2 separate regions of the Homo sapiens genome follow, and region 2 is linked to region 1. Evidence: fine-mapped expression QTL. Tissue or cell type: whole blood. Region 1 holds a variant in brackets; the other region holds the start of a gene. All regions are shown on one strand. Distances are from middle to middle.

Evidence for each region. PIP is the estimated chance that this variant, and not a neighbour inherited with it, causes the effect.
Region 2: it holds the start of CREB3L2, and the variant in region 1 is fine-mapped to the expression of CREB3L2 in whole blood (TOPMed, PIP above 0.99). The same link has a PIP of 0.9 or more in blood mononuclear cells.

What each region holds. Positions count from the first base shown.
Region 1 is chr7:137,950,586-137,953,349 of GRCh38, reverse strand. The region is part of intron 1 of CREB3L2 (cAMP responsive element binding protein 3 like 2); the gene reads left to right. CREB3L2-AS1 (CREB3L2 antisense RNA 1) reads right to left here and starts at 2. Exons shown (of 4, transcript NR_161346.1): 1 at 1-2. The variant T/G (reference allele first, on the strand shown) is at 1,079.
Region 2 is chr7:138,000,382-138,003,145 of GRCh38, reverse strand. CREB3L2 (cAMP responsive element binding protein 3 like 2) reads left to right here and starts at 1,060. Exons shown (of 12, transcript NM_194071.4): 1 at 1,060-1,542. The coding sequence starts at 1,441. LOC124901752 (a long non-coding RNA gene) reads right to left here and starts at 839. Exons shown (of 3, transcript XR_007060551.1): 1 at 756-839. RefSeq lists enhancers at 761-810, 1,041-1,110, 1,201-1,290, 839-1,436, 1,381-1,520 and 2 more.

The DNA.
Region 1 (2,764 bases):
GGAAGGAATGTGTTATGTGGAGTAGCAGTTAATCAACTAAGCGGTAAGCAGGTTTTCAGTGAAACACCACCGGGAGCTAATCCCACTTAACATAAACTACAGTGACTTAGAGGGAACAAACTGTCTAACCCTGAGCTCTCTTGTTTCCCAGGAAATAAATCAGGATGAAGTCAAGAGACATCAAGGAGTTTACATTAAAAGGTCTTACTAAGTGATTGAAATATTCTTAAACTGGCTGGGCACAGCGGCTCATGCCTTTCATCCCAATACTTTGGGAGGCCGAGGCAGGCAGATCACTTGAGGTCAGGAGTTCGAGACCAGCCTGGCCAACATGGTGAAACCCTGTCTCTACGAAAAATACAAAAATTATCCAGGCGTGGTGGCAGGCGCCTGTAATCCAGCTACGTTAGAGGCTGAGGCAGGAGAATCGCTGGAACCCGGGAGGCGGAGGTTGTAGTGAGCCAAGATCACGCCACTGCACTCCAGCCTAGTTGACAAGAGTGAGAGAGAGAGACCCCGTCTAAAAAAAACAAAAACAAAAACAATTATTCTTAAACTCCTCCTGGAGTAGGATAGATAGGTAAATAAGTGATTATATCTGGATTTGGGGTCAAAGGAGAAAGAGGAATCAGGAAAAACTTAAGAGTTAGTAAGTCAGCAAATACTTACTGAGCACTTCCTTCTAGGTGTGGTAGAGTTGGGGTGGGGTAGGTAGGGTGGCTGTCAAACACTGAGCAAGACAGACAGTCCCTGTATATTCTAGTGCAAAGGCGGGAAAGCAGGGGCCAGATCATAAAAACTGGAACAGATAAATCAGTAAGCTAATTTCACAGACTGGCAAATGCAGTGAAGATGACAAAATGGGACCTGTGGCTACCGTAGGGGTCATGGACACTGTTTCTCTAAGGTGACATTTGAGTTGAAAGGCTGAGAGCCTGAGGGCTGGGCGGGGATATCCTCTCAGCCATGGGGAAGTTGGGAAGGAGGCTGAGTATGTGGAAGAGATGGTTAATAGAAATCAAACACAAGGAGAACCTTCAAAGTCAGATGATAAATCAGGTCCATACTAGGAAGATCT[T/G]TTCCAAGTTTCCCAGAAAAGTAAATCAAACCTCACCAGGCCTCTAGATGGTTTTAATTACCTTTTTGTAGGGCTGCTGAACAGGGTATTAGTCATATACTTGACAATAAGGACTTGTGGATTTTTCTCAGAGATATTAATGGATGGGAGTAAATTTGCATTTGAAATTTTATTTTTAAATTACGAAAATAACATATTACCAAAGTTAGAGAAATAAGAAAAGAAAAACTCTTATGTTCCCACTATCCTACCAGCCCTATTGTCTATTTTGTATATTTCTTGAAGACTAGGTCTCACTCTGTCACCCAGGTTATAGTGCAGTGGCGTGATCCTGACTCACTAGAGCCTCCACCTCCTGGGCTTAAGCGATCCTCCCACCTCAGCCTCCTAAGTAGCTGGGACTGCAGCTGTGCACCACCACGCCCAGCTAATTAAAACATTTTTTTTGGTAGAGACAGAGTCTCCCTATGTTGCCCAGACTGGTCTCGTCTCGAACTCCTGGGTTCAAGCAGTCCTTCTGCCTCACCTCCCAGAGTGCAGGGGTTACAGGCATGAGCCACCATGTCTGGCCTGTTTTGTGTGTTTCTTACAGTCTTTTTCATGTATATGATTTTAGATAGTTAATACATTGCCCTTTGAATGCATGACAGACATTTCGCCAATAATTCCTTGAGCTTATATACCATACTTATACATTTCAATAAGTACAATCAATTCTTGTTATTTGCAGTGGTTATGGTCTCTTAAGTCACTGTGAACACTGAACTAGCAAATACTAACCCTTTGCTGCTAAGGGAAATAGAGGATTAGGTTCTTGCGGGTGTCTGATTACATTTTTATCACTAATCAGTATATAACCTTGTTTTATGTGTGCTTCTGTTTAAAGACACCATACTTAATGTATCAATATATTGTTGGTTTATTAACATTGAGCTACAGCCAAGAGTGCTATCACCCATACCTGAACAAAGCTTATCGAACACGTGGATTTTTTTCTGTGAGGCATATCACAGCCGTCTTGTACTTAGGACACTAGATAGCACTTCAGCACTGTGCTTGGGAGGTGTTTTAGACAGCAACGTCACCAACAAAAAGCACAAAGATATGAAAAACATGGCACTAAATAGACCATGAAAAGGAACCTGCGTAATAGCCTGAGAGCTACAGCAAGAAGGCAGAGTGTGCCCTTTTTCAGCCTTAGCTGGGCACGTGCATGTCAGTGACTCAAATTTTTTGCCACTCTATGCGGATTCTCAAATGACCATGAAAGTGCCACAAGTATTGATTTTTGAGGTTACAAATACATTTTATCAATTAGACACAATTCAGAAATATGGAATCTGTGAATAGTGAGGATCAGTGTATTATTCTTCAGACTGTACCATGGCTGTACCATGAAACTAGGGATCTTGAAACTAGGGAAAGCCTCCCCAGGCCTTTGAATTACTGGAGTGGAGAAATGAAAAGGTTCCCTTTCTCCTGTAATATTGCAATTAAATGAGAATATGTGAGTCCTTTATAAAGTGTGTTTTGAGATCTAGCTTACACCTTACAACGACACAGTTTCTGATATGTCCTTTTGTTTGTTTGTTTGTTTTACTCTGAAACTAAATCATAAATGGCTCACCTTCGGATGCATACACAGACACTGCTACTCTGGTGTTTGTGGAGCCTTCGTAATACCTC
Region 2 (2,764 bases), 50 kb before region 1:
TCACAGTGTTCGGGGGAATTCCTTTAGAACAGGCCATCTCTTCCCTATTCTAGGAGGCAGGCCTGGTGCTCTGGCCCTGGCTCACCTTTCTGGCCTTTCCCACCCCTCCCTGCCAAGCACCTCTGCTGCAGCCACACTGGCCTCCCCAGCAATCACGTGAATACCAGCTTCCCCCGAAATCTCATTTCCTTTAGGAAGAACTTCCCTGATCAGCACGTAAAATAGCATCGATCTTGACGCATCCTGTTTTCCTGCTTTTATTTTTCTTTATAGCAATTTCCACTTTCTGAATTTAAATGTTTATTTCTTTGTTTATTGCCTGACTCCTCTGAGATAAAAGCTCTATGAATTCAAGGACTGGGCTCACTTCTGTAGGACCTGGAAAAGCATGCCATTGACTCTTATCAAGCAGATGAAAGAAAAACATACAATAAGTGAAGTCCATAAAAAATAGAAGAACCCAACAGAAAATGGGCGAAAAAGGTGAAGAACAATGACAATTTCCTAGAGCTGCACTAATATAAATGTATGTGCATGAGGAATATTTGTATTTTTGTATAATATGTAATCCATTAAAAAAATTCCGAGAGATTCAAATGAACTAAAGTACTCGAAAATGTTTAAGCCCCCCGCGCAACAACTCTCGCGCCCCCTGTCGGCGCGCTGGTAAATTTCTGAGGATTCTCAGCAAGAGGACTGAACTCACCCTCCCTCTTTTACAAAATGTATTCTTGTCGCTATTTCATTGGCTGTACCTTTCAGACGCCCCTTTCACATTAGTCAAGCCTCCAGTCCATCACTTCCGGACCCAAGCCCTCTATTGGTCAGCTGTAGGCGACAGCAGACAGCGGGCCGCGCTCAAGCAGGAGGAGTTCCTCGGTGACGTCACAGACACTCCCCGGCTACATTCCAAGGCGTGGGCGGAGACTTCCCGCGGCCTCTGCCTTTGGGGGCGGGACAAAGCCGAGAATGAGACTTCTGATTGGGTCTGCTAGGCAAGGCGGATATCCAATTGGTCAAGCCTTGGAGGGAGGTGGGGCCGCAGCTGGGTCCTGGAGCAGAGCCGAGGAGCCCTGGGGTCCCTCAAAGTTTGTGTCTGGAGCCGTAGCGGCAAGTGGGCTTGCGGCTAAGGGATTTTCCTGGGATGAGAGCGGGTCTTCTGCCTTCATTTTGGATGCACATCCCGCTTTAGCCCCGGCAGCCTTTGGTCCGGCTCGTGTCCCTGGGGATTCTCGGATCTCCGAGGACACCGGACGGGAGCGCTTGGCCATCCTCTCTCCGGCAGAGGAGCAGACGTTTGCTTTCCAAGTGCAAAACTACAGACACGCGCGCGCACACACGCAAGCACACGCGGAGAGAGAGGAACCTTGCCGGTCCGAGGCAGCTCTGCGCGTCCCCTCCTGCGCTTAGCATCCTCGGCCCAGCGCGGCCCGCACCGCCATGGAGGTGCTGGAGAGCGGGGAGCAGGGCGTGCTGCAGTGGGACCGCAAGCTGAGCGAGCTGTCAGAGCCCGGGGACGGCGAGGCCCTCATGTACCACACGGTGAGGACCCGGCGGGCGGGGCAGGAGGGCTTTCAAAGCGGGCAAGTGTTGTCACGCGAGGAGCAGCTGGAGTCCTGGGACCCGGGAAGGCAGGGTTTGGGGCAGGGCATGGTCAGAATCAAGAGGTCCTGGGCGAGGTGTACTTTAATGTCTGAGCAGATGAAGGCGGGCAGCTGGCCCCTTTACATTTCTCATGAGAGTAATGCCACTTTGTATTCCTTTAACAATTCATGCTTTTTTCCCTGAGGCTTTTTCCATCTGTAATATCATTTGCTGTTGTTAACAGTACTGTAATGCGGGAGAGGGAGTGTGTGTTTTGAGAATAACATGCCTCCGCCTAGTTTGCTATTGATTTTTTTTTGAGGTTTTCAAAAACTGGACAAGATTAAGTAGCATTTCCTTTTCATCTGTCTCGTATTCTCTCTCCCTCTCTCCCTCCCTTCCTCTTCTTTCATATTTATATTTTAAAAAGTACACGTGTGTGTGTGTGTGTGTGTGTGTGTGTGTGTGTGTGTGTGTGTTGAAAGGGCTCCTCTACGTTAGGGAGAAAGGCGGCTTTATTTGCTTTCTTAAACTGTACGACCAAGAAGTCTCCTTCCTCCCTCTTCGGAGGAAAAACCAGCAGAGGAGTATGGAAAATCTGAGACAGTTGCATATTTAAGAAAGGCTCTGGGGAAGGTGGGACAGCTCACCAGTTGCTTGTTCAGTCTTATACTAATGCCTCAGAGATCTCTTGGGGGATTAAGCTGTCCCAGAGCACGCACATTTCTTTTAAAGTTTTTAATGTCAAGTTTTTGGTATTAAGTTTGCAAAATGAAATTTTGTTTTCAATAGCCAGCACTGATCATAGGACTTTATGCAAGATCTCTTTGTTTGATTCTTATCCATGCAGACGTTTGTAATGGGGGTGGGGCTGGGGTGAGGGGGGACACTAATGAGAAAACCACTGGAGGCTTGGCTGCTTCCCCTTCACGCTTTTTTAATGGGGTCAGTACCAAGATATTTGAAACTTTCGCAAAATGGCCTGCAGGCTCCACCTCTTTGGCCTTTGACTCTGGCTGACGTTATTTTGAGACAAGGAATGAGGGCCTCCCTGCTGATTCCCACCGAAGTATTTGTGGTGGCTGAGAGTGGCTTGTTTAAAAAAAATGCAGAGTGCAGGGCTGAGAGGGAGTGGTAGTTCATGCTGGGGCAAAAGCCAGATGTTCAGTGTGATCTTCTG